5 separate regions of the Homo sapiens genome follow, and all the other regions are linked to region 5. Evidence: fine-mapped expression QTL. A gene starts in region 5. Each other region holds a variant in brackets. All regions are shown on one strand. Distances are from middle to middle.

Region 1 (6,560 bases), 79 kb before region 5:
GGACATGAAATTTCTTGGAAAGGAAAAATTAAGTCTTGGGTTGACTAGCAAAACCTGACCTTTTCAAGCTCTAGCTCTAACATCTTCTTGTCTCTGAGTTGCTGCTGAAAGACAAAAATATGAGAGTTTGGGACCCATTTCTCACTCTCATTCTAATCAAGCAGCAGATATTCATTATTAATGAAATATATAACTATGTTAATTTAATTGATATAGGTATTGTTTCCAGGATATTCATTTAAAAAACACTTCATTTTATAAAGCAGTTTTAGGCACACAGAAAAATTGAGCAGAAGGCACAGAGAGTTCCCATATTCCCCCCTCCCCTCACCATACAGCCCTTGCACTGTCAACATCCCTCACCAGGGTGGTACATTTGTTGCAGTCGGAGAATCTGAATTGACACATCATTATCACCTAGAGCCCATAGTTTACATTAGGGTTCACTCTTGGTGTTGTAGATTCCCTGGGTTCTGACAAATATAAAATAACATGTATCCACCACTATAGTATCATACAGAATAGGTTTGCTGCCCTAAAAATGCCCTGTGCTCTGCCTATTCATCACTTCCTCCCCTTAACCCAGGGCAACCACTGATCTTTTTGGTTGTTTTGTTTTGTTAGAGACCGGGTCTCACTCTGTTGCCCTGGCTTGAGTTCAGTGGCATAATAATAGCTCACTGCAGCCTCAAACTCCTGGGCTCAAGTGATCCTCCCACTCAACCTTCCGAGCAGCTAGGACCACAGGTGCACACAACCACATCTGCTAATTTTAAAAAACTTTTTGGAGAGATGGGAGTCTCACTATGCTGCCCAAGCTTGTATTGAACTCCTGGCCTCAAGCAATCCTCCCAACCCAGCCTCCCCAAGTGCTGGGATTACAAGTGTGAGCCACCACGCCTGACCAAAACCACTGATCTTTTACTGTCTCCATAGTTCTGTCTTTTCCAGAGTGCCATATAGTTAGAATCACACAGTATGCAGCCATTTCAGGTTTTTTTTTTCACTTGGTAATAAGTATTCAAAGTTCTTTCATGTACTATTAGTTTTATTTTATTTTTAATTGACAAATAAAAATTGTATGTATTTGTGGGGTCCAAAGTGATATTTTGATACATGCATACATTGTGGAATGATCAAATCAGAGTAATTCGTATGTCTGTCACCTCAAATATTTATCATTTATTTGTGATGAGAACATTTAAATCCCTCCCCCCTTTTTTTAAGAGATAGGATCTCAAACCCCTGGCCTCAAGCAATCTCTTGCCTCAGCCTCCTGAGTAGCTGGGATTACAGACACGAGCCATCATCCCCAGCTTTAAAATCCCATCTTTTAGCTAGTTTGAAATATATAATACATTATTACAAACTATAGTTACCTTGCTGTACAAAAGAACACCAGAACTTATGCCTCCTAACTGCAACTTTGTACCTACTGACCAACATCTCCCATTTCTCCATGAAACCACCTCCCACCAGCCATTAGTAACCACCTTTCTACTTCTATGAGTTCAGCTTTTGTAGATTCTACATGTAGGTGAAGTCATATATTTGTCTCTGTGCCTGGCTTACGTTACTTAAAATAAGGTCTTTTAGGTTCATCCATGTTGCTGCAAATGACAGAATTTCCTGTTGTGTTTTTTAAAGGCTTAATGGTTTTCCATTGTGTACATACACCACTTTTTTTTTGAGACACAGTCTTGCTCTGTTGTCCAGGCTAAAGTGCAGTGGCATGACCATGGCTCACTGCAGCCTCAACCTCCCAGGCTCAAGCAAACCTCCTGCCTCAGCTCCCACAGTAGCTGGGACTACTGGGACTACAGGCATCTGCCACCACACACAGCTATTTTTTTTTTTTTTGTATTTTTTGTAGAGACTGGGTTTCCCATGTTGCCCAGGCTGGTCTTGAACCCCTGGGCTCAAGCAATCCACCCACCTTGTCCTTTAAAAGTGTTGAGATTACAGGTATGAGCCACCACACCCTGCCTGACTCTGGAATGCTTGACCAAAACCTCCAAGGGTATAAAATATCTAGTCTTTCTGCTTTCAGCAGGCTCTCCTAAATCAATTCCTAAATATCATTCAGTCATCCAAACTGCGTAAAGAATATCATCACACTTTCAAGTTATTAGTCTGAAAAGAAATCTCACACTGATGAAGAAACAAAGTAAATATAGTTAATATAGAGAATCAATTAATTAAAAAATCATTCATTTCAACTTGCAAGAGGGATGACTACACATGTTGGTAATAATCAAGTTTGCAGCCTATTTCCCCCAAAATGCACACTTCCTTGAGGTATATAAAGTTTTTACAATAGAATCTCATCTACTCTAACCTAAAGTTGGAAGTTGTCCCCCTAGCTAGTGATGAACACTTGGTAAACTTTGGAGAAAAAGTTGGAAGGCGAATGTCCCACTGCGTGTCTTGGAATAGTTGCTTCTTTCTTATGAAGACAGATGTGATAGAAACCATGAGAGCGCTGCACAAAGCAGCTGAAGCTGATGGGTGACATTCAGGTAGACAGCTTGGGGTCAACAGAGCAACCAGTGCATCTACAATATTGAAGGACAAGCTGGAGAGAACCTCAGATATAGATCAAAATATCCAGGTGGTAAATCAATACACATGAACTGCAGATCAGCCCTGTTAATGTTGTATTTTTTTTAGTGTGTTTCTTTCTTTCATTCTCATCTTTGTTGGTAATGTAATATTTTTCCCAGATTCATTAAAGAAAATAATATATATAGTTATATATACATATATATATATGAATTATATCTTCATTGGGAATTAAGTCAAACTAATTAATATTTATCACCTCACATGCTTCGAATCCTGTGCTGAGAATTCTGAAATCTGCTCTCATAGCCATCTTCAAGTGTACAATACATATGTATAACTATATTCACATTGCCATGTCATAAATATCCAGAAATCTCTAGTTAACTTTCTGATAAATTGTATCCTTTGACCAACATCTCCCTATGCCCATCTTGCCCCTGCCCTAGGCCATGAAGCCCAACTATCCACTCTAAACTTCTATAATTTTCACCTTTGTTGATCCCACATACAAGTGAGATCACGCAATATCAACATTACAGGCCTGGATTGCCCACTAGACAGGAAAACTTCAGGTTTATTCATGAAGTCAAAAATGACAGATTTTCCACTAAAAATGTGAATAGTATTCCTTTTTATGTCTCCACTGATGCCTAGGAAAATTTTGTACCTTACAAAAAGAAAAAGCCTACAACCAACATAATCTCGTACATATTTACTGTGTACATGGATTTCCTTAGGCTGTATGCCCAGATGGGAATGCTTAGATCCCAGTTCCACTAATTATTAATTAAACAGCTTCCACATTGCTCCTTACCACCACTGGCCTAAT[T/G]GACTATCTCAGCAACATTGCACCAGGATGCCCTTTTCTCCCCATATTAGACAATAATTATCTTCCGGGCATCTCAGAAAACAAGCTGAACAACAAACCCTCTAGAAAGGCCACACTACAATCCATGCTGACTCGTTTGGAGGGCCCTTGAGATGTATATAAAAGACTTAAGACCATGAATGAATCCCATGACACTAGCATTCCAGACATTAAAATTTCTTTTCAGCTTTTCCCTTTTGGGCACAGCTCTTTGGAAACAAATTTTCTATGGCTTGCCAAAAACAGGCAGGGCCCCAAATATCTGAATCTCCTTTCCCAAACTTCCTGAGTTTCTACCCGATTCCTGCCGACAATTGAGCTCTTTCTTTGACTCACGTGCTCACAAAGCAAAGAAGAAGGCTGTAGAGATAAACACAGGAACCCATCGGCAGCTGGATCAGTCCAGTTTAAACGACAATAAATATGATACACACTAACCGTGTGTGACGTCTTCATTAGGGAATTCACTAGAATCGGCCGAATTCACACACTTATCACCACACATGCGTCCCCTGTCCCCGCTCAGGAGAATTTTCAGCTCTACTCCCGTGGATATATTCACGAGAACCTTACATTCTGCTCCACCGTACTCACGTTGCCCTGCCACGGATATCCAGGAAGCACTCCACCTGTCTCTCGGAAACTTTGTGCCCTTTGACCCACATCTCGCATTGGCATCCTTTCCCTGCCCCTACACCTGCCCCTACACCGGCCCCAGGCCCAGCCAACCACCTTTCTCCTCTCTACTTTCCTGATCCTCACAGCATTTTCTCCATCCAACATCACAAGGAGATCACGCAATACGGGTCGGATGGGCCTGGCTGATTTCACTGGGCACCATGACTTTTGGGTCCATGCATAACGTCCCAGATGACAGGCTTTCCTTTCCTTTCCCTGATGTGTTTGTTCTACGAACCCTATTCATTTGTCCTTCTCTAGTCATCTGCTGAAGGGTACTTCGGTCGATTCCACGTCTTGGTTACAGGCAGCGTGCCGACAACCAATGCAGCAGGACACATATTTGCACCACAACCCGATTTCGTGTCCTTAGGCGATACGTCCAGAAGTGGGATGACTGGATCCCAGTTCCAGCGGTGATTTCTTGAGCAACCCCCCCGTATCGCTCCCGGCCACCCCTTGAGCAGCCCTTACTGTGTTGGCACCTCCCACACCCAGCTGGCCACGCAGCCCTGTCCTCAGGCCTCACTCCTCTCTGCGCCAGGTCCAAGGCAGAGACAGCGAGCCTGAGATGTCCCCGAAAGCCGTCAGGGCGTGACCGGATCCCACGGCACCGGCCCTGCGGATGTTCCATTTCCTTTCGCCTGCTTGCTTTCTGGCGGACGTCTCCGCGCACGCCGTTTCTCAGACTCGCCTGGGACAGCCTGCGCCTCGCACGTCTCCCTCTCCCTCTCTTCTCTTACCGAGTTTCTCCTCCCCACACCCCGCCGGGTCCTGCCTAGAGTCGTGTGCCCCTTCCTTGATTCACGTGCTCACCGAGCGAGCGAGGCGGAGGGCTGTGGCCATACACACACGATGATCCCATCCGCAGCCCGCCGGGATGGTCCTGAGCTCACAGCAACACCCGTCGGGTACACAAAGGGGAGGAGAAAATCAGACCGTGAGGCCTAGGAGGAACCAACTCAAACCTGGCTGGTCGTGGGCAAAATGTGGCCCTCTGGCCCACTCTCCTCTGCTGCCTGTTTCTCCATAGAAAACTAAGCTGGGACGAAAGCACACCCTGTCCTTTCCTAACGTCGGTAGATGGATTCCTGCCGCCGTGCCAGAAAGGAGTTTTTCCTCCGCAGACTGCAGGAGCAAGAGAACCTGCGGGACTCGGTCTCCCTTCACTCGAAATTTGCCCGACTCTCGGCATAGTGTGCACACACCCCAGCACGCGCGCGCGCGCACACACACACACACACACACAGGCACGCACACACGCAGGTGCACACCAGGAAGTGGAGAAATCGTCCAACGCAGAGGTAGAGAGGACTTCGAAATGGGCAACGAAGTAGGGCACTTCCTTTGAAATTACCGTGAAGCCCACAGCTACCTTTGTCTCTGTTCTGCCACTCCGCAAAATTGCTCATCACTTGCCGGAGACAGAGCGGCAGGGACCCAGGGAGAAAGCGGAACCCCTCCAACCCGCCTAACCTAATCAAGGTAGCCTGCGCCTGTGGGCGTGTCCGCAGCCAATCCTCCTGGGAACACCCAGCAGGGGGTCCTGGCTCCCTATCAAAGCCCGCCGGCTGCGCCCAACCGGCCATTTCCCCGCTTGCGCTGCTCAGGCTGCCAGAGGGTAGAGCCTCCTCGCCGGGAACACAGAGCTCTTTCCTGGATGGGGAAGCTGTCCCTTGAGGAGACGGGAGAAGACAGACCTCCCTGTGGAAAGCAGGGGAAGATGGAGACCCGCAAGAACCGGGAGGGTTCTGAGAGAGGACGAGGTGAGTGAGGGTCGAGTGTCTCGTCTGTGCGGATTGGTGTGTGGAGGGGGTGGCAGGGGCCAGGGAGGCAGGAGAGTTAGAGCTGGGGTGACAAAGGCAGCGGTCCCCGCCCCACGGGCCCTGATCCGGCAGGTGGTGGGGAAACCTAAGGTCAAAGAAAGGCAGACTTTTTGTGTGCTGGGTGGCTCCGCCAGCTGGGCCATCCTCTGGGTGCGCCCGCGGAGGAGGGTTTGCTGGAGGGTGCCAGGCAGCTGGGGAACAGCCAGAGTGAGGAGACAAGAAGGGACCAGGGGAGTGGGGCCTGGAGGTCTTGGGCAGCTGGAGAAAGAGGAGGGGGTGGGGGACACCTGGGAGCAGAGCCATTCCTGCCTTGAAGTCACTCTGGGAGCTTGGCCCTTGCAACCCTCCCGCAGCCGTCTACGGACGGGTCATGGCCCACTCACTGTCGACCTCCTCTTCCCCCGCAGCTTCCAGCGGGCACAGCCGGGAGGCCTCTGCGTCCAGGCACAAACGGTGGAGAAGCCCCGACGGCTCCCCTCGCAGTCCCGGCAGAGAAACCGGAAACCGAGGGCGGAAGGTCAAGCCACGACCAGCCCCAGCCGGAGAGCGAGGCCACGACAAGCCCGAGTCCGGCAGAGCACGACGCCCCCACGAGCGCAGAGGAGGCAGGCTTAGGGGCTGGG
Region 2 (6,560 bases), 47 kb before region 5:
TGGTCGTGGGCAAAATGTGGCCCTCTGGCCCACTCTCCTCTGCTGCCTGTTTCTCCATAGAAAACTAAGCTGGGACGAAAGCACACCCTGTCCTTTCCTAACGTCGGTAGATGGATTCCTGCCGCCGTGCCAGAAAGGAGTTTTTCCTCCGCAGACTGCAGGAGCAAGAGAACCTGCGGGACTCGGTCTCCCTTCACTCGAAATTTGCCCGACTCTCGGCATGGTGTGCACACACCCAAGCACGCGGGCGCGCACACACACACACACACACATACACACAGGCACGCACACACGCAGGTGCACACCAGGAAGTGGAGAAATCGTCCAACGCAGAGGTAGAGAGGACTTCGAAATGGGCAACGAAGTAGGGCACTTCCTTTGAAATTACCGTGAAGCCCACAGCTACCTTTGTCTCTGTTCTGCCACTCCGCAAAATTGCTCATCACTTGCGGGAGACAGAGCGGCAGGGACCCAGGGAGAAAGCGGAACCCCTCCAACCCGCCTAACCTAATCAAGGTAGCCTGCCCCTGTGGGCGTGTCCGCAGCCAATCCTCCTGGGAACTCCCAGCAGGGGGTCCTGGCTCCCTATCAAAGCCCGCCGGCTGCGCCCAACCGGCCATTGCCCGGCTTGCGCTGCTCAGGCTGCCAGAGGTTAGAGCCTCCTCGCCGGGAACACAGAGCTCTTTCCTGGATGGGGAAGCTGTCCTTTGAGGAGACGGGAGAAGACAGACCTCCCTGTGGAAAGCAGGGGAAGATGGAGACACGCAAGACCCGGGAGGGCTCTGAGAGAGGACGAGGTGAGTGAGGGTCGAGTGTCTCGTCTGTGCGGATTGGTGTGTGGAGGGGGTGGCAGGGGCCAGGGAGGCAGGAGAGTTAGAGCTGGGGTGACAAAGGCAGCGGCCCCCGCCCCACGGGCCCTGATCCGGCAGGTGGTGGGGAAACCTAAGGTCAAAGAAAGGCAGACTTTTTGTGTGCTGGGTGGCTCCGCCAGCTGGGCCATCCTCTGGGTGCGCCCGCGGAGGAGGGTTTGCTGGAGGGTGCCAGGCAGCTGGGGAACAGCCAGAGTCAGGAGACAGGAAGGGACCCGGGGAGTGGGGCCTGGAGGTCTTGGGCAGCTGGAGAAAGAGGAGGGGGTGGGGGACACCTGGGAGCAGAGCCATTCCTGCCTTGAAGTCACTCTGGGAGCTTGGCCCTTGCAACCCTCCCGCAGCCGTCTACGGACGGGTCATGGCCCACTCACTGTCGACCTCCTCTTCCCCCGCAGCTTCCAGCGGGCACAGCCGGGAGGCCTCTGCGTCCAGGCACAAACGGTGGAGAAGCCCCGACGGCTCCCCTCGCAGTCCCGGCAGAGAAACCGGAAACCGAGGGCGGAAGGTCAAGCCACGACCAGCCCCAGCCGGAGAGCGAGGCCACGACAAGCCCGAGTCCGGCAGAGCACGACGCCCCCACGAGCGCAGAGGAGGCAGGTTTAGGGGCTGGGAGCTTGGAGGGGTGGGGAGGAGGGCGCAGGGCCCCGGGAAGGGGAGCGGGGAGTGGGGGGCCCCGAGGGGGCCGAGGAAGCCCTCAGTGCGCCAGGAACCCGGGCCCCCGGTGGCCCCAGATGAGATGTGCTTCAAGTTTGAATGGGCGGAGGGGAGGGCACCCCGGACGGGGCACCGGAGTCCCCAGGATGCAGGGAGGGGCCGAGAGGATGGGGCGCGGAGGCGAGCCGCGGAGGGGTGGGGGATGGAGGGCAGGGGGAGGCGGGGTCGGGAGCGGCTTCGGGACCTTGGAAATGGGTCCCCTAGCGCTGCGCGCAGTCCCTCTGACACCTCCCGCTCTGTCTCCCGCGCAGGTTCTGTTCCCAGCCCGAGGCGCCTGGAGGAGCCAAAGCACCGGCCTAGATCGCCAGGGAGGACGAGCGGCCCGCAACGCCGCGTTGACGTCCGGGAGGAGCGACCCACCTCCCCAAAGCGCCGCCGACGCCACTCCCCAGAAGCCTGGGTCTCCCTCCCGTGCCCGCTCTCGCGAGTCGTCAACCACCTGGGCGGGCTGGACGTGGCCCTGGGCGAGCTTCGGGCCCCGGGGGGCGCCTTCCTCCCGGGGCCCGCCGGCGGCACGCAGCCCAGCGCCTCGCAGCGCGCCTGGCTCACCTGGCAGCTGGCGCACGCCGGGGCCGCCCTGCACTGGGCGCTGGCCACGCTCGACAGCCTGCTGGCTGCGGGGCCCTGGCCCGCGGGCCCGCCGCCCTTTGCGCCCGCTCCTGGGGGGCCTTAGGTGCGCACGGGAGCCAGCACCCTCGCCTTGGAAAAGCTCGAACCCTCTGCCCCAGAGGCGATCCCGACTCTGCACCGCAAACTCTACGGCGCCCTGCAGGACGGCGGCCTCCTGCCGCTTGGACGCCAGCCAGGAGCTCCCCGGCAGCAGCAGAGCAGAAAGAAGGATGGCCCCGCCCCACTTCGCCTCCCGGCGGTCTCCCTCCCGCTGGCTCACGGAGATAGATGGCTGCCTAGCTCCGGAAGCCTAGCTCTTGTTCCGGACATCCTAAGGACGACACCGTTTTTCCTTCCGGGGGCTCACCACATCTGGGACTTTGATGACTCGGGACCTCTCTCCCATTGAATTTTTGCGCGTTTTCTGGGAAGGGATGAGGTGTGGGCTTTGCGTTTGGATGTGGGATTGTCCTTTGAGCCGAGAGCGTTGAGAAGCCTACCTGGAGTGACACCCGTGTAGAGACTGAGCCACGTGGATTCGCGGAAGTGGGGGTGGGGGCTTGGGGCGGTACCTCACCATAGGGGATTTCCAGGGGAAAGTGAAATGCCCTCGGTGTAGGTCATTCGTAGTGGAAAGGAAAATGCCTGGTCCCTCAGCTTCTTCGTGTGTCCCAAGAAATGTCCTCAATATTTCCAACCTCTGCCCCCAGGGTCAGGAAAATATTCCTGGCAGGTTTTGGTGAGCCTCTGGAATCTCTCCGCCATTCCGCGTTTGCACCCTCGGCTTTGGCAAGGATGAACTGCATCCACGTTTTTGGAAATCAGTCGTCATGTGTTTAATGACCCTTGTGGCTACCTCTTCGAGGTGTGTGTGTGTGTGTGTGTGTGTGTGTGTGTGTGTGTGTTCATGCCAGCGTCCTATGTCTTGTAACTGAAATCTGGGAACTTGTCTCCCTACCCTGTGATGATCACCTGGGGAA[C/A]TTTGGAGAAGGAGGTGGAAGGGGAATGTCCCACTTCGTGTCTTGGAACAGGTGGCTTCTTTCTTGGGAAAAGAGGTGGGATGGAGAGAATGCACCCGAGCTCTTCAGAAAGGACCTGCACTGATTGGTGATAGGCAGCATGGGCTCAGGAGAGCAGGGAGAGTTAGGGGAGACACCCACGTGCCTGGAATAGTGGAGGGCCATTTGGAGCAAGCCTCAGATGGAGAGCCACATATCGAGGTGTTCGGTCAATCCTTGTGAACCAGAGAGTGTTCCTACGAATGCTAGAGTCTCATAGAAGTAATGTCTCTTTTACGTTTTTTTGCCTGATTAATATTTTCTTCCCCTCCCGGTGCCTTCAAGTATGAATGACAATAAATACCATACATATTTACCGTGTGTGACCTCTTCATTAGGGAATTCACTAGAATCAGCCGAATTCACACAGTTATCGCCGCACTTGCTTCCCCTGTCCCTGTCGGGAGAATTTTCAGGTCTACTCGAATGAATATACTCAACAGTACAACATTATGTTCTGATCCTCCGTACTAACTCATCCCTACCACATATATATATATGTGTATATATATGTATATATATATGTGTGTATATATGTATATATATGTGTGTATATATGTGTATATATGTATATATGTGTATATATGTATATATGTATATATGTGTATATATGTATACATGTGTATATATGTGTATATGTATATATATGTATATATTATGTATATATATGTTGGTTTCAAGAAAATCCTTGAGAAACTGAACTGCCCCTCTTTCTGATTTGTGAGGAAGAAAGGAAAGGAGAGGTATTGAAAAAAATATTGTACCTTTTTACGACTCTAATATCAGGAACAATTAAAGTCAGGACCATATCTGAGGCAGAAACAAAGCAATTGCCTATCCGTACAAAGGTGACGCTCAAAGAATACTCTGTCAGGAACACAGTGTAGGGGGCCGTGTCTTAAGTAGGTGAAGAGTAATTTCAAGCCATCAATTATTTTTCAGTCTTCACTGAGTCCTTAGTTTAGTATTGCTGGATAACAAATTATCACCAGCTTTAGTGGATTAAAGTATCACAAACCTATTATCTCACAGATTCTGTAACCTGGAAGTCTGTGTATATCATGGTTAGGGTGATGGTTAATTTTATCGGTCAACTTGACTGGGCTAAAGGATGCCCAGAAAACTGGTGAAACATTGTTTCTGGGTTTGTTAGTGTGTTTCTGGGAAAAGATTAGCATTTGAATTAGCAAACTGAATAAAAAAGCCCCCACCAATGTGGGTGGCCACCACCTAATCCACTGAGGGCCTGAAAGGACAAAAAGGAAAAGGAAGGGTGAATCCTCTTTTCTATTTTTTTTTAATCTTTAACTTTTGTGGGTACATAGTAGGTGAGTATATTTATGGGGTACATGAAGTAGTTTGATACAGGCATGCACAGTGCAATAATCACATCATGGAAAATGGGGTATCTATCCCCTCAAGCATTTATCTTCTGTGTTACAATCCATTTATACTTTGTTATTTCGAAATGTACAACTAAATTATTATTGGATATATACACCTGTAGTGCTATCAAATACTAGGTCTTATTCCTTCTTTCTTTTCTTTTTTTTTAAAAACCCGTTAAGTATCCCCACTTCCCTCCCACCTTTTCTTTTTTCTTGAGCTGGGACATTCATCTTCTGCCTTTTGACATTGGAGACCCTGGTTTTCTGGCCTTTGGACTCTGGACTTACATCATCCCTACCCCTCTCCACTCTTTTTCCAGTACCTTGCATAGCGCAGCACCTAACCTGCACATATTCAATGAATGCAATTAATGCATGAAATGGCGCATTAAGGAATTATTTCTCCAAGTGCTTGATTATTCTGGTGAAATATCTTCACCAAACCCGGGCTCTCACGGAGGAGTGGTGTGTTTACTTAAGTTTCTGTTTCAGTTTTTCTTATTGTTCTTATACTATATATGAAAAGATTTATCGTATATCTCAAAGATTAACGTCCTCTCCCTATAAAATAATGTTATTTGTTCGATCAGGCTTTTCTCCGTTATGCTTCCAATTTCTCGCATCCTGCCTTTCTAAAGTCCGCACTAAGCGTTGTGATTCCCGGACTTCTAGCCGCTGGCCGCACTGACATGTATTCGGAAAAGCAATTCCAAATTCTGTAAAATATCTTCCGGCAGTGATGCGATCCGAACTCCGGCAGTGGGTTGTCAGGCCCAGGTCAGTCCTGTAGTGCGTAACGGAACTCGGTTCCGGCTGGCTCTGATCGCATCACTCCTGCATCCTGCAAGTAACGCCCTCGCCAGCTTCCACCTCCCGATCTAATTGTCCCAGAAGTCCCCGCACTTCCGCTGTACGGCTGAGTGTTTGCCAAGATGGCCGCGCCCGTGCGCTATTACCGAAGGGCGCCGCCATCGCGGCTGCCGGACCCGCTAAGGCCGCCCTCCGGGTAGCCGCCATGTCGGTCTCCAGCGGCGTCCAGATTCTGACAAAGCCAGAGACCGTGGACCGGAGGAGAAGTGCGGAAACGACCAAAGAGGCCGGGCGACCACTGGAGATGGCTGTGTCCGAGCCCGAGGCCAGCGCCGCGGTGAGAGCTGTGATGAGACAGGGTGTTTTGGCGGTCAGAGATGGTGTACTTGCGGGGCAGTGATTGGAGTAGTCTGTGACGATAGGTGATTTGGGAATTGGTGGAATCGATGCTAGATGGTCTTTTGGGAGGTCGGTGTTCTGAGTTATCTGTGGGGTTAATGATTTGGCTTTAGGATATCAGTATTAGGAGGGATCTGCAGAGACAATGATGGGGAGGCGTCTGTGGCAGTCACCGAGTGTCGGAGTTTGGAAGGAGATCAGAAATGGAGGCTTTGTGATGTGTCAGAGATAGGGAAGGACCGTGGGGGTTGGCGGTTTGGGATGTCTATGGGAGCCAGCGATTATGGGTGCCTGTGGTGGTTAGAGCCTGGGTTATCAAAGAGGGTCAGTGTTAGGATTTGGGAAATTCAGTGATTGGGAGCATCTGGGAGCATCAGAGATTGGGGCTTGGGAGTCAGTGACGGTGATGTCTGTGGAAGTTTGATTAGCAGTATCTTTGAGGGTCAGTGGGTAATGGAGGAATCGGGGGGCCAGTGAGGGGGGAATATGACTGTTGGAGTTTGGGGAGTCAATGTTGAGGTGTCTCTGGGGATGGTAGATGATTTGTATGTCATCTGGGGAGAAAAGGTAATTGGGGATGTATGCAGGTCAATAATTAGGTGGTGTCTAGCAGTAATAACTGTGCTTTGAGTAATGAGGTGATTAGTAGGAATTAATGATTGAAGATCCTCTATGATTCTGTGACTAGAAGTCTAAGGGGGTCAGGAGTTTGA
Region 3 (6,560 bases), 30 kb before region 5:
TTTTGGATATAATAACAAAAGTTTATGTTAGCTAGCTTCAGTAAATACAGGAATTTGTGATAAGGACCTGGGTACATCCCTTACAAGCTAAGGGCAAGATAGTTCAGCCAGTCCTCACCAGGGACTAGAAATAGGAACTAGGAAGGAACTAGGAAGCCATTGGGAATTGAAATTGTGCAAATGATCTCTTTAAAGACGCAGTTCTTATGTCTCTGCTTCTCGGTGTGTGGATGGTTCATACTTTGACTTGACGAGCTTTCTGTTTACGTAGAGAAAATATGGTTTACTAGTACCTGCTTTATATAATTTCTAAATTTAAGTACCAAGTGGAGACTAACTGGAGTCAAATTTGTTAGAAGAAAGAATCTTGTTGGACATCTTGGTTTGAGTCAGATTTGTCTCCAACTGTGCCCATGGAGAATTGGGGTAATATAGTATAGGCTGCAGGAGCAATATATTATGGCCAGCTTGGGAGTTATCAGAACTGGGCAGCTTGGGCTTATAAGAAACCTCAAAAAGTATCAGCTACAATCATAAGCTCTTTTAACTCCATCTATTCCCTGTTCACTTCTCCCTGTGTTTATTTCATCTTCTATCCCAGGTTGCTCACTCATATTTTTAAGCAGCAAAAACTTTAAAAAATCACTATTGTCACTTTTCCCACCTCTTTTTACTACAACATTTTCCCCCTCAAGTCCATTCACCCTAGTTGTTTCATTCACATTGGTATACCAGGCTTGAATAAAAATTTAACCCTACAACAGGTCATTTCTTTACCAGTTTTATTCCAAAATATAAGAGTACAAAGATTCACAAGAATATCTCACTGAATTCCATTTTAGAAGTCCAGAAAGATGATGACCAGCTTGAAAATATCCAGAAATCTCAAAACAAACTCCTCAGGGAAGTTGCAGTCAAGAAGAAAACTCAAGCTAAGAAGAATGGCAGTGACTGTGGTTCACTGGGGAAAAAAAATAATTTGCATAAAAAACATGTTCCTTCAAAGAAAAGGCTTCTTAAATTTGAGTCATGTGGAAAAATTTTGAAACAGAATTTAGATTTACCTGATCACTCAAGAAACTGTGTAAAAAGGAAATCTGATGCAGCTAAAGAACACAAGAAGTCATTCAACCATAGCTTATCTGATACAAGGAAAGGCAAAAAGCAAACTGGAAAGAAACATGAGAAATTATCCAGCCATAGCTCATCTGATAAGTGTAACAAAACTGGCAAAAAACATGACAAATTATGCTGTCATAGTTCATCCCATATTAAACAGGACAAAATTCAAACTGGAGAGAAACATGAGAAATCACCCAGCCTTAGCTCATCTACTAAGCATGAAAAACCTCAAGCTTGTGTGAAACCCTATGAATGTAATCAATGTGGAAAGGTTCTCAGCCATAAACAAGGACTCATTGACCATCAGAGAGTTCATACTGGGGAGAAACCATATGAATGTAATGAATGTGGGATAGCCTTTAGCCAAAAGTCACACCTTGTTGTACATCAGAGAACTCACACCGGAGAAAAACCATATGAATGTATTCAGTGTGGCAAAGCCCATGGTCATAAACATGCACTCACTGACCATCTAAGAATTCATACTGGAGAAAAGCCCTATGAATGTGCTGAATGTGGGAAAACCTTCAGACACAGCTCAAACCTTATTCAACATGTGAGATCTCACACAGGTGAGAAGCCATATGAATGTAAGGAATGTGGGAAGTCTTTTAGGTATAACTCATCTCTTACCGAACATGTGAGAACACATACAGGTGAAATACCATATGAATGCAATGAATGTGGAAAAGCCTTTAAGTATAGCTCATCCCTTACTAAACACATGAGAATTCATACAGGTGAGAAACCCTTTGAATGTAATGAATGTGGGAAAGCTTTCAGCAAGAAGTCACACCTCATTATACATCAAAGAACTCATACTAAGGAGAAACCTTATAAATGTAATGAGTGTGGAAAAGCCTTTGGACATAGCTCATCTCTTACTTACCATATGAGAACTCATACAGGTGAAAGTCCCTTTGAATGTAATCAATGTGGGAAAGGCTTTAAACAAATTGAAGGCCTTACTCAACATCAGAGAGTTCATACTGGAGAGAAACCGTATGAGTGTAATGAATGTGGGAAAGCCTTTAGCCAAAAGTCTCACCTCATTGTACATCAGAGAACTCATACTGGGGAGAAACCTTATGAATGTAACGAATGTGAAAAAGCCTTTAATGCAAAATCACAGCTTGTTATACATCAGCGATCCCACACTGGAGAAAAACCCTATGAATGTAATGAATGTGGGAAAACTTTCAAACAAAATGCATCCCTAACCAAACATGTGAAAACTCATTCAGAAGATAAATCTCATGAGTGAAGTTAATGTGGGAAATTTGTTAACTAAATTTAAGGTTTTGTTGAACCTTGGAAATATGCTGATTTTAAAGAGTGTTAGAAAGCCTTTAGCAAGATGTCACACCTTGTTGTACATGAGAAACTTTGAAAATGGATCTTCATATAGAATCAGTGGATGGAAACAAGGGTTTAAACTTGATACAAAACCTTTTATAAAAAATATTGTTTTAACTACTCAATTATTATAAATGATCTACATGTTCAGATTGAAATTGAAAGCTTTAAAAATTGTGAATTATTTGAATATTCAAAGCAATGGAGAAACAAGTTATATATGCTGACAGTTCCTGTGTTTCTTCTTGTTTTGTACTTAAGCACCATATATTAGAGTTGAATTTGCATATCTGTTTATTGCCTTATGTAAATGAGTGTGGCCATCTGTATAAGCCTCTTTGACATTTTCACCCAGCTCTTTCTTAATGTCTGTGTTGGCTTCTGCATCAGCAGAAATCTTTTTAAAAGGGTTGTTATATATGTAAAAAATGTTAACAGGAAAATGAGAGAAAATAAAGCAGCTGAGGATACAAATGTGCTGGTAGGGAGCGATATTCAAGATATATTGTGAAGTGTGAAAAAGTAGGTTGCTGAACCATGTATATAGTATGTTCCCCTTTGTGTACAAAAGGGTATGTTTGTTTAACCTCTGTCTCTTATCTCTGTATGTGTATGTATCTTTGTATGCATATATACATGTATCTGTATGTGAATAGACTTTGAAAAAATACAGAATAAACTTCATGGTGGTTGCCATTGGGCAGAGGAGTATAGGACTGGGGTCTAGGATAGGAGCAAGACTTCCTTGTATATTTGGATTTTTAAATCATGCACATGTATTATTTTTATAATTAAAATATTTTAATATGCATAAATCAACATTATTTAAGGTTGTCACTGAGCCCCTCCACAACATGTGAGATCAACATGTGAGATCTCAGATTTTGACAGAGTTAAAATCTTTGTATGCTTATTCATGAATGATGATGAATCTAAAGTATATAGTATGAAACTTGATGTTGAATTCATAAAGACTTTTTCTATCACACACAAGTTCTTTCATTAACATAGTGAATTATAACAGCACTGTTTCTACATTTGCCATTTTTTGATGTTGAATTGTGATTGCAGGTGATGATGAATTGTGATTGCAGGTGAATGAAAGTGATTTTATGAATAATCACCCTGTTTTATCTCATATTCAAAGAACTAACACACAAACACCT[C/G]AATCAGGGAATTCGAATGAAACAAATGTCACCCCTCCCTGTTCTCGCTCAATATTGGGCATTATTTACTGGATCACTGTACTCTTTCTGAGTGAACCCAGAGTTGGCCTCAGAATCATTGTGCAGCGTGCATTCCAGAAGGTACTATGCATCAACTTGGACTGTCACAGGAGACCTATTTGCCATTGCACACCTGGATTTTTTTTACTCTTGAGCCATAGATTAAAAATACTTCTGGCTGGGCATGGTGGGTGCCTGTAATCTCCAGCACTGTGGGAGGCCAAGGTGGGTGGATCACTTGAGGCCAGGAGTTTGAGATCAGACTAGCCAACACAATGAAACCCCATCTCTACTAAAAATACAAAAAATTATCTGGGCATGCTGTAATCCCTGTAATCCCAGCCACTCAGGAGGCTGAGGCAAGAGAGTTGCTTGCACCCAGGAGATGGAGGTTACAGTGCACTCCAGCCTGGGCAGCAGAGTGAGGCTCTGTCTCAAAAAAAAGAAATACAAAAAATGCACAAAACTTCTGAACTATTTTGAAATCTAAGTTGTTACACTAAAAGCAGAGACATAAGTACAGAAATGGTTTTCAAAAACATCATACCTTTATTTTAATACAATATTAATTTACATAATATAAAATATTATAATTTGGCATGTTATCTTTTATATTTTTTAAAGCACAATCCCTACATTATTTCATTTATTCCTCAGAACTAACATATGAGCAGTAATCGGGACTTGTCTAGTCATGTTCAATCCTGTTGAGTAAATATTTCACCTAGACAGTAATTTAGCATAATAATGGGCCCCAAAGAAATATGTGCTTAAATGCCATCTTTACAAATATTTATCATTCAAGCTCCTTCCTTCCTGACCTCATTTCAGAGAATTATAATGTGTTAATATAATATATTGAGAATGGAATATGTGTTCGTGTATGTGCATGTGCACACATGCATACACATGCACGGGTTGAAAGCTCAACTCATGAATATATCCCCTCATTTCCAAGTAACTTATTTATCACATGGGAAGAAAATGCAATATGAAAGCCATTTCTACCAGTAATTTCTTAACAAGTGGAAATATAGCACTATGCACAGAATGAGTCATCACTGTCTAGAGCTGTAGAAAGCCTGCACTTTTTAGATGGATGAAACAGTTGCAGGTTATGGCTATGTTGAATTTCCACATGTCTTGGGGAACCCATAGTATTGCCACATCTGAGACAGTGAGAATTATAGGTATGCCTGAATGATATAAATGAATGCTGAAAGCCACTTTGTGCAGTAATAAAATGAATTAAAAGTTAGCATTGATGAATGAGGAAAGGATGTCTAAATACAATTGGAGGTTAGTATAGGAAAACAGACACACAGTGGTAAGTCTGAATCGATACGTAAACTCTAGTGTGCATAAAAATTGCCTGAATGATTTGTTAAAACACAGACTTGAGAATGCAAATTCTTGGGCCTCGTCACAGACATATTGGATCAGAAACCCTGTGGGTGGGCCTTGAGAATTTGCATTTTAATAAGTTTCCAGTGGATTCCTGTGCTGCTGGTCTGGGGACCACCCTTTGAGAACCACTAATCTAAATCATGGTGTAAGTAAGTTTAAAAAATTATTTTTAAACTGTTTTTCAGATCCTCTTTAAGAAAATGAAGGGGCATAAAAGTAAATTATTATTAACAGTTTTGAAACATTTATTTATTCAAGTGATATGATCATCTAAGTGCCTGAGATACAGCAGTCTACAAAACAAAAAGAAAGCAAACAAACAAAACAAAACCCTGTTCTCATAGACCTTAATTCTAGAGGAGGACATAGGTAATAAATAAACAACTACAATATAAAGTATAACAGATCACTGGATGGCAAAAAGCAAACCAAGGAAGGGGAGGGAAGTGTTGGGGAATGTAATTTTAAATATAGTGATGGGAAGCAGGCAGTAAGCTTACTTAGATGGTGACAAAAGCAAAGACCCAGAGAGGGTAAAAGAGCAAACCATGTATATATATATGACGGAAGAGCATTCCAGGGATATATCTTTTAGAATCTGAGGGTGTGGGAAGAGAAAGATGTTAAACTCCTCTGACATAAAGAAGAGGAAAAAAAGTGGAAACATTTTTTTAAATCAAGATTTAAAAAAAAATTACATTTGTGATAGGTAGAAAACAATCTGTCACACACTGCTTTTGGTAGTTGTGTAAGTTTGTACAACCTACCAAAATGTAAATCTGACAGTATACATCAAAGCCTTATGATGGTCGGCAGTCCATCGAGGAATCTATTCTATGTTGTACAATCAAGGCGTACTATGATATTTATTGCAGAACAGAGAGAAATAGCATATACATTGCTAGTTAATTGATTAAATAAAGCATGATTCCTTCAAAAATTGAGTAATATGACATTAAAAACCACAATTTCAAACTATATTTAAGAAGATACAAATAATTCTTTATTATTACTTTTACTCTCAGGAATGTGTTTGAGTGATGCATCTCCAGGCATCAAGTGAGTAATCCAATATTGAAGAAAATTAAAATTTTCCACAAAGTCCCCCTTCTAGAAGAATGTGCTCATATCTTTTGACCAGAAATGAGTCACATGACCACACCTAGTTTCAGGTGGCTTGAGGAAATTGAATCTTTCTTTTTTTGTTTTATTTTGTTTTGAGACAAAGTCTCTGTCACCCAGACTGGAGTGTGCAGTAGTGCAATCTTGGCTCATTACAATCTCTACCTCCCAGGCTTAAGCACTCCTCCCACCTTAGCCTTCCTAGTAGCTGGGACTACAGGTGCATGCCACCAAGCTAATTTTTTTTTTTTTTTTTTGGTGGAAACAGAGTTTTGCCATGTTACTCAGGCTGGTCTCAAACTTCTGGGCTCAAGTGATCTGCCCACC
Region 4 (6,560 bases), 89 kb before region 5:
ATAGCATATTTTTCCTAAAAATTTGTTTTTTATGCATTATTATATACACATAAAAATGGTCTTATTTTGGCTGGGCACAGTGGCTCACGCGTGTAATCCAAGCACTTTGGGAGGCCGAGGCAGGTAGATCACCTGAGTTCAGGAGTTGGAGAACAGCCTGGTCAACATGGTGAAACCCCATCTTTATTGAAAATACAAAAAACATTAGATGAGCATGGGGCGGGCACCCATAATCCCAGCTACTTGGGAGGCTGAGGCAGGAGAATCGCTTGAACCTGGGAGGTGGAGGTTGCAGTGAGCCAAGATAGCGCTGTTGCACTCCAGCCTGGGCAATAAGAGCGAAATTCCATCTTAAAAAAAAAAGAAAGAAGTAGTTTTATTTCAAAATTAGAAGCAAAAAGAAAATAAATATATCCTGCTATAGAGACTTGTCTTCGGATGCTTATGACCTCCTGTAAATGCAGTTCCTCCCTCATCCCCGTCTAAGCATCCTTCCTCAGCCTCCTCAAATTGGAGCCTGCGTCATCAGAACCACGTGGAAGGCTCTAAAAACATTGACGGCATAGAGGGAGACCCTATCTCCAAAAAACAAAACAAAAAAACCCTTTATTTTTAATGGGATAAAAAGTTAAATGGTAGTTAGATATTCAAGTTTTGTATGCTCCATGAACAAACAAACAAACAAACAAAAAAACATGACACTTGATGGAGACTGCAGGCCTGCGTTCTGTACCTGGCTTTGAGGGAGTGATTGGATGGGATGGTGTGCTTCCTGTGCCTGTCCTGTCTGCTCTGGGTTTAATTTACTCTCAATTGGCCATTGTTCTTTCCATGATCTTATTTTCCAGGCATTGTCCTAGGACCCAAGGTCTCTTACATTCTTACATGTAACAGTAAGAATTCTTACAATAAGAATTGAGAGAGTAGAAGCTATTTTTTCCTATGACTTAGAACTTTGGGGGAAGTTTAAAGGGAGATACTGCATGTATTCTGTGTCATCATCTAATTTCTACAGACCCTTCTTAAGGAACTGACATTAATGTTGTACTTAATTCTTCAGGCAGTGTGGGCCAAGAATAAAGCCAGATATACATTTAGTCTAAAAGTACAAGTCATATTATTTCCATCAGTGGATTCCTATAATCCTATGAATAAAATCTTATACATTGGCTTATAAGAGACCCATTGATTCACTATTAATCACTATATTTCTGTTCTTACTGGGCTGAAAAAAAATTGAAATTTAACCTGATGTGTTTCCTGTGCTTTGAAATCTTACTTTGTTTTCATGGTTCTCTTGCCTATTTCTTACCCCACTGCACACATAGAAGAAAGAATATCAATAGCGGCAGTTCTTATCAATCAGAAAACAGGTTAAAAGCCATTCTGGTTCTTGGGCTAAGTCTCAGTAGCAGAGAGAAATAGAAGAGGAAAGGTATGGGATAGAAGTGTATTCACTACCACTCTCTCTGATCAAACCTTGGAGGGGAGCAACGGAGTCCCAGATGTATCCAGGAAGGGGGTCTTGCTTATAGTTTTCACAGCATTGCCTGGGATACAACAGATAATTCCTAGTTGCTATTGTGGGCTATGAATGAGCTAGAATGGGTTCTATATGTCAATGTGGCGGGTGCTGGAAAATTATTTTTAATGATTACATTTTCTTTGACATGTAGTCTCCATTGTTGCTACAGATGGAGAAGAGAAACAGGAGGATTGCATACAGAAAATATATATAGCCAAGTACAAACATGGCATCCATGACTTTTCTTCATGTTGCATTGAGCAAACTCACTCATGGGGCCCCAACTAACTGCAAGGGATGCAATATTTTGCTGTGTCCAAGGGGAAAGTGAATTGGGCTTGGTGAACATATAGCATAGACTCTACTGCAGAGTGGTCTTTAGGTCACCAAAATTCATGTTTCTCTTTCCCCCTCAGGTAGAGCACATTCACTATATCTCCAAAGAAGATGTTAGGAGCCAGCCAAAGTATTATCTAGTAATGCATCCACATCAGTGTTCTGGAACGTGGGGTTGGTCATGTGTACTCTTCCCCATAGTGGCTGGATGTGGCTCTGTGTATATTGTGGAGACAAGGTAATGATGATAAAGACCCCCACTCAGATAGGGATAAATAGGAAACACACAGCAATTTTTATTGCCTACTGGGTGAGCATTATAAAATGTGAATATTTTCCTCAATGAAAAGTAAGAAGAGAACTAGGTTCTCATGAAAAAGTGGCAAAATGGTTTTTACAAACTCTGGCGACTCATATATTTTAAAGTTGCCTAATCAACTGAAATGTATGTATGTAAGCATGGGTATATTCACTAAAGCCTAGAACTAATGATGACCTTAGCAGCAAAGGAATAAAAATATGTTCAATAATTAGTCAGATTGATTGAAATTTGTTTTTTTGTTTGTTTGTTTTTGAGATGGAGTCTTGCTCTGTCGCCCAGGCTGGAGTGCAGTGGCACAATCTCGGCTCACTGCAACCTCCGCCTCCTGGTTCAAGCAATTCTCCTGCTTCAGCCTCTCAAGTAGCT[C/G]GGACTACAGGCATGTGCCACCACACCCGGCTAATTTTTTGTATTTTTAGTAGAGACAGGGTTTCACCATGTTAGCAAGGATGGTATCAATCTTCTGACCTCGTGATCAGCCCACCTCGGCCCCCCAAAGTGCTGGGATCATAGGCGTGAGCCACTGCGTCCGGCCTGAACTTTCTTTTTATATGTTTATTTTGCAGATAGTATTTCTTAGAATTTATATTTTGGAGAACAAAAGGTACTCATGTACATGTATAATAGTTTTATTTTATAACATAAAATTGCAGGCTCAAGCTGAAGGCTTTGAGGCCAGTACATGGAGTGACCTCAATGGACTCGAGTGGTAGCAAGCTGAATTTGGTCTCCATCATATCTTTCTGCCCCCTATTGTTACTTCCCTGACTATATTACATTTTGTAGCCAAAGGGATTTTGCAGATGCAATTAAGGTTACTAATCCATTGACAGAAAATGATCTTCTCAGTGGGCCTAATCTAATCACACGAGCCCTTAAAAACGGAAAGCTTGCTCTGCCTGGCAGAGAAAGATTCCAAGTTAGAGACTCCACAAGTTGTTGCTGCTTTGAAGATGGAGACAGCCATGTTAGAGAGAATACAGGAAGCCCAGAGGAGCAGATGGCAGCTCCCAGCTGACAGTCAGAAAAGGAAAACCTGCCTCAGACTTGTAGGTGTAAGGAATTTGATTTTTCCCAACATCCTGAATGAACTTCAAAGTTGATTTTCCCCCAGAATCTCCAGACAGGAGCCCAAATAGCTGCAGCCTTGATTTCAACCTTGGGGATCATGTGCAGAGTGTCCAGTAGATTCCATCCAGACTTCTGAATCCACCTACAGAATTGTGAGATAATAAATGGGTGTTCTTTTAAGAACAAAGTTTGTGGTGGTATTGCAGTGGCCATGGAAAATTTGTACAGTAGTTAATAGTATTACTATTATTGTTATTACTATTACTATTTTCATCTCCACAGAGTTACACCACAGAAGGTACATGCATCTGCAGCAGGCCCAGCTCAGTCAACACCTCTCTGAGTACATTCTAAAGCCACAGCATGCATGAGATTCTGAGGGCCCAGGGTCACTTCTGAACACAGCAGCCCCCCAAAGACTCACAAGGCCAATCACTGCCCACTGAGGCAGAGGTGGGGGATCCATCAGAAAGGGCTGAAAGAAGCTCTAGTAACCCAGAAGTGTCCTCCAGGACCTAATTTGTGAGGTTACACTTCTACTTCTTGTCTTCTGGAAGCCATGAAGGCAGAGCTCATGTTCCAGAGTGAAGTCTTTAGTGACCTCCACTGGACAGTTTGAGTTGGATGCCTATCAGGCCTCCTTCCCTCCCCTTTTAGGATGGGTCCATCCCAAGACATGATGGGCAAGCCCTATCCCCAGATACACCTCCCATCGGTCATTTGGTTTCCTAAGTGGTTCCTGAGTACCACATAAATGCTAAGCACTAGATGCTGGGGATACTAGATGCTCACTAGATAGCAGTGAGCAACCTACATAAAATGCATGGCCTGTAGGAATCCATGGAGGGGAGCTCCCAGGACTGTATCAAGCACATGGAGATGATAGGGAGCACCTAAACCCTCTTGGATGAATTATTAACACCATGGGCAACATTCTACACATTTGTAATAAAGTATGGCGGTAAGGAAGGCAAAAATATCACTTACCCACAAAGAAATGTCCAAGCACAAAAACATCCATACCGACATTGTGTTTATGTTCAAGACAAGCTCACACACCCTTCGGCCAAGATGGCACTATTATGTTCTATGGAGTCCTTGCCAGTCACAGCAAATAGGAAAACTAGGTCAGCGTGTGTGAGTTTATGTATGTGTGTGGTTTTGTGTGTGTGTTTGGCAGGAGAGAGAATGCCATAATTAGTGACTATGAAAATATTCCCATATTTTCCACCGGCTGGGTCAATCTTTCTTCTCCTCACTGGTTTTCTTCCTTCCTAGGCACTCAAACCCCAATATCTTCCTATTTGCCTGCAGGCACTGTGCAGGTGCCCTGTGAACCATCTCATTATTGAAGATTATTTGATTTCCTTGCCTTTTGTCATCAAGCCAGGCGCCATGTTGAGTCCCTATAGGGAGGGGCTTCCCTTTTCCCAGATGTTGAGTTCCAAGTTTGTGTTAAGATAGATGAACCCCAGATATACAGAAGATCCTTAAGGAGCACATAACTTGTTCCTTGGCCTTGCTATCTCCACTGATGACCTACCTTAGCAATAACCCCCAAAACCTGTCCCCTTGAAGCTCACCCATCTCTGTGGCCACTGGACAGTGGCTACCTTTTCTAGCTTTCACAAAACACTATTTTCTGGAAAATAATCTTATGCTTGAACACTTTCAGAGTTGAGCTGTTTTGTGGTGGATGAGAGACTGGGCAAGGTGGCCCAGCCATAGGCTGATTTTCATGTCCCTGGGAGGGAATCCAGCTAGCTTTCAGTGGCTGGAGAATGAGTTCAGTGTACTTGAAAATACATGGACACTTTTTGGGGGGAGTGTGTTGGTTTTGTCTTTCCCAAGCCCAGTAATAATAAGTTCTTTCACCCTCAGCTTTGCTAAGACCTTACCCTTCCTCTTCCCTCTGGCCTCTTCCTCTGCCCACTTCCTAATCCACAAATAGAGCCAAGATTTCTCCTTCCTTGATACTCCAGAATCTGTCACAAAGGGAGAGTCAAGGGGAGTTGGTAGTCAACTGCATATTTTCATTAAGGCTATGTTAAGAATTGGGAAGCATCTCCCCAGCCTCAATCAGGAAAGGGATGGGATCTTGGGTGCAAGAGGTAGCTCTTCTTCACCAATGTATTTAGGGTCATGAGGATTGTTCCTTATCCCCTGAGCTCAGGGCCTCAAGCCTCCCAAACTCCAGTTCCACATTGAGATGTGTGAAGTTTCTTATCCCTTGCCCTGCCTGAGGGCTGAGTAGGACACTTGTGGCCCTGTGGTGCCTATGCACCCCCAAGAATAACACCATATGTCTGCATACAGTTCAGTATGATGAAGGAGCAGAGAGCATAAGTCTAGATTGTGAGGGTTGTTCTTTAACAGATTTTATTCTCATTATTTAAGCCTCTAAACACTTGTCCAGTTGGGTTTTGTGTTTATTAGAAAGGAGGTATTCATTGAACAAATGATAGAACCTGGGAGAGAGGGAGGTGTGTGATGCCACTGTCAAAACCCCTCCCTAACCCAAGAAGTCAAGTCATCAGTAAGAGCTGGACTTGACTTCTTTTCTCTAAGCCCAGTCTTAAGATACACCCAACTTCTCCAAACATGGCAAAGACAGAAGAAACCACTTTTCTTTAAGGAGAAACAGCTATATATGGTAAGAATGACTACCACTGTAAATGAGAAACAGAGACAAGACTCTTCAGAGGAACTATACTGTGAGCAGCAATACATTTTCTCTAATTGGGTGAAAATATTTCTTGAGAGAAATGTTGCTGGGAGGAGGGGATGGAGGAGAACTCTCTGGCTGACTTGAGGAAACAAACCTTATAAACAGAGCCTGAGGAGGCATGGGGATGGCCTGATGTCCCTTGGATCCTTGGTCCAGGCTGCCAGGGCCTGCCCAGAGATACAGGCTACTCAGAGAAGATGGAAGTGGATTGCCTCAAATTGCTCATCATGAAACCACACCACATTCTTTGGTTTTCCAAGCTATCTGTGACCTGCCTATTATTGAGATCATGCAGACTCTTATAATCTACTTGAAGGCTGCAGGATGCAGATGTCAGCCCTTTCCTTCTTCAGGAAATAGGGAGTCTTTCAGTCACAGGAATATCTAACTCTGAGTTCTGCCTGAGCCTCACTGAGTTCTAACTCAGTGAGTATCTAACTCACTGAGTTCCTCAGTGAGTGGACATCTTTCCCTTGCATTAATTACACTTCTCAGCCCTATTGTTTTCTTTAGGCTCTGGCCAAATAACTGACTTGCTCTTTGAGTTTCAGCATCCTTTTGTCCGCAGAGGTAGCCCTGAT
Region 5 (6,560 bases):
TGGGTTGGTTCCAAGTCTTTGCTATTGTGAATAGTGCCGCAATAAACATACGTGGCAAACGCACTTTCTTGATAGATAAAGGCATTAGTCCATTCATGAGGGCACAGCTCTCACAACCTAACCACCTCTTTAAAGTCCCACCTGTCAATACTGTCACAATGGCAATTAAATTTCAACATGAGTTTTGAAGAGGACAAAGATTCAAAGCATAGCAATGTCCATACTTCCAGTAGTGCCCTATAGATACAGTGCAATCACTAGTAAAATCCCAACGGCATTTTTTTTTTTACAGAAAAAATCCTGAAATTCATTTGGAACCACAAAAGACTCAAATAACCAAGGAAAATTTGAGCCAGACTAACAAAGCTGGAAATATCATACTCCCTAATTTCCAAATATATTATAAAGCTACATTAATCAAAACAGTGTATGACTAGCATAAAAACAGACGTCTAGACAAATGGAACAGAATAGAGAGCTCAGAAATAAACCCACAATGATGAAAAGATAGTCTCTTCAATAAATAGTGTTGGAAAAATTGGATAGCCACATGAATGAAACTGGACTCTTATGTTATACTACATGCAAACATTAACTCAAAATTGATTAAAGTCTTAAACATAAAACCTGAAGCAATAAAACGTTTAGACAAAAACATGGGGGAAAATATTCTAGACATTGTGCTGGCCAATGATTTATTGGATATGACACCAAAGTGGGATTATACCAAGTGGGATTACATCAAACTAAAAACCTCCTGCACTGGCCGGGTGCAGTGGCTCACGCCTGTAATCCCAGCACTTTGGAAGGCTGAGGCGGGTGGATCACGAGGTCAGGAGTTTGAGACCAGCTTGACCAACATGGTGAAACCCCATCTCTACTAAAAATACAAAAATTAGCCGGGTGTGGTGGCGTGCACCTGTAATCCCAGCTACTCAGGTGGCTGAGGCAGGAGAATCGCTTCAAACCAGGAGGTGGATGTTGCAGTGAACTGAGATCATCACGCCACTGCACTCCAGCCTGGGCGACAGAGCAAGACTCCATCAAAAAACCAAAACCAAAAAAAAAAAAACAAAAAAAACAAAAACCCTCCTGCGCAGCAAGAAACAACAAAATAAAAAGATAAAAAAGCAACCAACAGAATTTATTTTTTGGAGAAAATATTTTCAGACCATATATCTGATAAGAGGTTAATATCCAGAGAGTTAATATCTGCCTGACAAAGGAATTCCTATGCATCAATGGCAAAAAACAAATAACCCAATTAAAATTGGGTGAAGCATCTGCATAGTCATTTTTCCAAAGAAGACATACAAATAGCCAACAGGTATATGAACAAGTGCTCAGTATCACTAGTAATCAGGGAAATGCAAATCAAAACCACAATGAGTTATCACCATACTTCTGTTAAAATAGCTATTATAAAAATAAATACATAACAGATGATGTAGAGGAAACAAACCCTGTGTACTATTAGTAGGAATGTAAATTGGTCCAGCCACTATGGAAATCAATATAAATGTACCTCTAAATATAGAATTACCCTTTGATCCAGCAATCTCACTTTTGGGTATATATCCGGAGGAATGGAAATCTGGATCTCAAAGAGATATCTGCACTTCCACGTTTATTGCAGCAGTATTCACAGTAGCCAAGATATGGAAACAACCTAAATATCTATTGGTGGACAAGTAAAGAAAATGTGGTATATACATATAATGGAATATTATTCAGCCTTATTAACAATGAAATCCTGTCATTTATGACACCATGGATGAAACTGGAGGATATTATGCTAAGTGAAAGAAGTTAGGCACAGAAAGACAAATATTGCATGATCTCACTTATATGTGGAATCAAAAATAGGGAAATACATAGAAACAGAAAGTAAAATGGTGAAGGGGCTGGTGAGGGAGAAATAGGCAGGTTTTGGTCAAAGAGTACAAAGTTTCAGTATTTATTTATACACAATAAATAAGATCTGGATGTCTTCTTACCATAAAGAGCCTATGATTCACAATAGTGTATTATATACTTAAAAATAAGTAAAGAGGGTAGATCTCACATTAAGTGTTCTTACCACAAAAGGTGGGGGAAGCCCAAAGGGGTGGAAACTTTTGGAAGTGATAGATGAATTTATGGGATTGATGGCATGATGGCTTAATGGTTTCACAGGTATATATACTTACCTCCAAACACATCAAGTTGTGTATATTAACTGTGTACAGTTATATCAATCATAGCTCAATAAAGCAATTTTTTAAAGTATGTATAGTTTTATACTTGAGAATATCTAATTATACAGAATTTGTATATATATGCATAGAAATTACATATTTAAATATATAATAGGGAGTATCTTGGAGTGAACTTTTATCTGACTAATTTTGTTCTTTTTCCTTACCTCTATTCTCTGTTATCTACAATCTGTCTATCTATCTATATTCGTTTGTTTAAGAAAAAAGTTAGATATACATATTCCCTCTTCATTATATTCGTTTTTCGGACGTTTTTGTCAAGAACAGATGTGGAGGAGTGAACAGATTACTCTACAAGGATGTTCATCAGTATACTATTTTTGGTAGCACTGAAGGGATCATAACCTAAGTTCCTAACAGGAAGAAAAAAGCTAGAAAAAAATCTACCCCAAAAGTATGACCTCATTCTTGGATGGAATCTCTCTGGTGCTTGCTCGCTGTCTCTCTCTCTGCCCCCTGTCTCTGCCCGCCCCGCCCCCCCGCCACCGTCCCCTCAACACACACTCATAACAAAGAAGCTAGCTATAAATCAGAGATTTACTTTTAGAATGCTAAAAAATATTAATCACTGCGTTAATAAATATTTCTGCAATGAATCCATCTGGGTAGTTTGGTTTTTTATCTGTTGAATAAAGAGTTATTTATAAATCATCTATTAATGTAGTGAATAGGTATTACTTTTGTGTCTGGGGTGTTGTTAACGCAAACTTTGCATCTCTTTGGATTTACAGTTGTTTATAGCAAAAGAAAAAATCTTTTCCTTTTTTCTTCTTTTCATGTAAACAACGATGGAAACGACGCACGTTCGCAACCCGCAAAGCATTAGAAAGACACCGGTGAAAGACGCAGCTCAAGAGGGCGCTTTGCAGAAGATGCTGGGAAATGTAGTTCCTGGCGGCCGCGTGCGCAGGCGTACTTCCTGGCTTGGGAACCACATCGCCCGACCGTGCTCTTTATTTTTCGGTGGAGCAGGTGAGCTTTTTCTTTCCCGACCCTTGCACTCGTGTGGGAGGTGGGGAGAGAGGTCCCCTTCAAACACAACCATTCGGGCGGGTCGGGAGAGGCCTGAGAATGCATTGGCCGGGCCCGGGGGCGGAGGAAAGCCGATTAGGTCAGGCTGGGTATTTGGTTCACGTTGCAGTGGAGGGGTGGTGGTGACCTGGGCCAGCATCCCGCTTCAGGGTGAGGAGGAGGCAAAGCCGTGTCTGCTCATCCCAGCCTTAACAGTCAGGGGCTTGGGTTCTCTTCTGGGTTGGAGAGTCATGAGAACAGAGCTCAGAGCTTTTGGGCCTTGCTTTGACTGTGATGGGGGGCAGTTTATCTGGGGAGGGGCAACCACCCCAGACCTTGGTGGTAGGTAGACCTGGGAATTGCAAGAAAACCGTGATATACGTATTTAGTGCCAACTAGAATTTAGGTTTCCCGACATCCAGTTCTTGCTCTTTCCTCAGAAACTCACCTCCTCTCTAGAGATAGCTTGTTTCGTTTTACTGGTAAATTTCTGAAGTCTCTTCTATAAAGAACTGTGGAATTGATTCCCTACACTCTGCGGGCGACGAAGAGCAATTGTTTGTTCTTTGAGATGGCATTTGTGAATGCACTTCGAAAAATTGTATATGCTTTACAAGTATTGTTAACAAACAAAGAGGGAGCTGGTGCACTCGGTGCCACCCATCATGGGAGGATAAAGTTAGCCCTGTTTCTGGTTTGTCAGATTGGACCAGTGACCAGAGAGAGGAATGTAAGTGGCCTTTCACTTTGTACTCTGCAGGGAAAGAATCTGTTCCTAGATTCATTCTGACATTTTTACAGAGGGTGTGGGTTATATCCAGGTAGTCAGACAGGCTTCTCATAAAGACAGTCCTGATTTCTCAGGGCCCCTTTCCTTTTTCAGCTCTGCTTTCTCAGGTCTCTACTTACTTATATAAGATGGCATCAAGAAGAAGGACCTGACCACTGGCCCCTGACTACATGGTCTTTGGTGAGCAAAACTTTTCAAGGCATTTGTACCTTAAGCTGGGTTTAATTTCTAAAGTTCCATCTTGCAGTGTGGAAAAATCATATGCAATTAAACGTCCCTTGATAATCTCTTTTATTGCTCATTATTTGCTCTCAATTTTTTTTTTTTTTTTTTTTTGAGACAAGGTCTCGTCCAGTTGCCCAGGCTGGAGTGCAGTGCACGATCTTGGCTCACTGCAACCTCTGCCTCCTGGGTTCAAGCGATTCTTCTGCCTCAGCCTCCTGAGTAGCTGGAATTACAGGCGTGCACCACCACGCCCGGCTAATTTTTGTATTTTTAGTAGAGATGGGGTTTCACCATGTTGGGCATCCTGGTCTCAAACTCCTGACCTCGTGATCTGCCCACCTCAGCCTCCCAAAGTGCTGGGATTACAGGTGTGAGTCACCGTGCCCGGCCTAATTTTTCTTTATAACTGACAAATAAAAATTTTATATATTCATCATGTGTAACATGTTGTTTTGAAATATGTATACGTAGTAGAATGGCTAAATCAAGCTAATGAACATGCATCACCTCACGTACTTTTCATTTTTTGTGGTGAGAGCACTTAAACTGCTCTCATAGCAATTTTCAAGAATACATTGTTATGAACAATAGTTCATAACGTGTATGCACATGTAATGTGTATACAACCATGCAATAATATACATGTGTAAATGTACCCCGACTATGTTCTTTAAACATTAAAATAACTCAGCATAGCAAGATGCTCACTTACGAGAGGGCTGTAAGAAGTGAGACTGAGGAAACAGGAGATTCTCCCATCTCACTCTTACCTTTAGATAACATACTTTCTTGAGCCTGTTGGGCAGATTTGTACAAATAAAATATACATGTGTGTCTGTAACGCAGCTCTGCTGTATTTTTTATTTCCTGAAATATCACCTCTGTCCAGAGGGAGGGAAAATTTTCTTTCTTTCACTCACTGAATAAATATTCATTGAGCACCTACTTTTTGCCAGCTAATGTTCTAAGCATTGGGATATAACAGTGAATAACACAAAGTTTCTGCCTATGTGGAACTGACAGTCTTGGATGGGCACACAGACAATAATGTAAACACAGATGTTCCTCAACTGAGCATGAGGTTACATTCCAGTAAATGTGTAAGTTGAAAATATTAATTCAAAAATGTACTAATTCACCTAACCTACTGAACATCATTCATAGTGATGAATAGAGGAAACTATACCAGAGTAATGGGGCTAGGGAAGGCATAGGACAGCTGTTATTTAATATAGGGGAGTAAGAGAAGGCTTCACTGGTAGATGACATTATAGAAAATGAGAATATGGGCCGGGCGTGATGGCTCATGCCTGTAATCCCAGCACTTTGGGAGGCTGAGGCAGGCAGATCACGAGGTCAAGAGATTGAGACCATCCTGTCCAACATGGTGAAACCCTGTCTCTACTAAAAATACAAAAATTAGCTGGGCGTGGCGGCATACGCCTGTAGTCCCAGCTACTCGGGAGGCTGAGGCAGGAGAATCGCTTGAACCTGGGAGGTGGAGATTGCACTGGGCCGAGATCACGCCACTGCATTCCAGCCTGGGCTACAGAACAAGACTCTGTCTCAAAAAAAAAAAAAGGAATATGAGCCTTGTAGATACTTGGGGAGGGGAGGGGGATTAGGGAGATTAAGTTCCTCAGCAGAAGCAACAGCAAATGCAAAGCCTCAAGGTGCAGATGTGCTTAACCTTTGTGGGAGCATCAGGAAGGCCACGTGGCCAGAGAGGGGTGAGTGATAGCAGCACAGTAGGAGTTGAGATGAGAGAGGTAAGGCGTGCAGACCACACAGCACACAGGCTAGTATGGCCACAGCCAGTTTGGCTTTTATGCTGAATGAGAAGAGAAAACGTAGGAGGTGATGGTGTTCGGTGTTATTGTTTATTCAGCTCTATTAAGATTTACATATAATTTACCAATTTTCATAGGGTTTTGAATAGAGAAGTGACATAACTTGACTTAGTTTAAAGGAACAATTTTGGATGCTCTGTTGAGAATAGAGTATAGGGTAGCAAGGTCAGACATGGATACTGGCTAGGAAGCTAAAGCAATCATCCAGGTGAAAGATGGATTTTTCTATTTCCTTCATTGTCTGACTTTTTAAGCCAACCAACACTTCATCCACCCCAAACTTCCAATTCCTCTCCCCATCTCCACTCTCATGCTTCCTATTTCACTAAGAGAACTAGAAAAGAACTTCCAAATGCTCTCACCACCACATCCCCTAACCTTCCAGGAAGTATTCCCATTATACTCCATAGTAACAGGAGGGAACCT

What was found.
Region 1: its variant is fine-mapped to the expression of ZNF883 in whole blood (TOPMed, PIP above 0.99).
Region 2: its variant is fine-mapped to the expression of ZNF883 in whole blood (TOPMed, PIP 0.96).
Region 3: its variant is fine-mapped to the expression of ZNF883 in whole blood (TOPMed, PIP above 0.99).
Region 4: its variant is fine-mapped to the expression of ZNF883 in whole blood (TOPMed, PIP 0.90).

The regions. Positions count from the first base shown.
Region 1 is chr9:113,088,093-113,094,652 of GRCh38, reverse strand. No RefSeq gene overlaps it. Among named protein-coding and RNA genes, the nearest start is that of FAM225B, 20 kb to the left of the region's middle. The variant T/G (reference allele first, on the strand shown) is at 3,395.
Region 2 is chr9:113,055,782-113,062,341 of GRCh38, reverse strand. It overlaps ZFP37 (ZFP37 zinc finger protein), which reads left to right and starts at 5,618. Exons shown (of 4, transcript NM_003408.3): 1 at 5,618-5,785. The coding sequence starts at 5,654. RefSeq lists an enhancer at 5,418-5,987. The variant C/A (reference allele first, on the strand shown) is at 3,173.
Region 3 is chr9:113,038,551-113,045,110 of GRCh38, reverse strand. ZFP37 (ZFP37 zinc finger protein) reads left to right here. Exons shown (of 4, transcript NM_003408.3): 4 at 843-6,560. The coding sequence ends at 2,386. Among named protein-coding and RNA genes, the nearest start is that of ZFP37, 15 kb to the left of the region's middle. The variant C/G (reference allele first, on the strand shown) is at 3,645.
Region 4 is chr9:113,097,955-113,104,514 of GRCh38, reverse strand. No RefSeq gene overlaps it. Among named protein-coding and RNA genes, the nearest start is that of FAM225B, 10 kb to the left of the region's middle. The variant C/G (reference allele first, on the strand shown) is at 2,550.
Region 5 is chr9:113,008,820-113,015,379 of GRCh38, reverse strand. It overlaps ZNF883 (zinc finger protein 883), which reads left to right and starts at 3,188. Exons shown (of 5, transcript NM_001101338.2): 1 at 3,188-3,230; 2 at 4,153-4,239.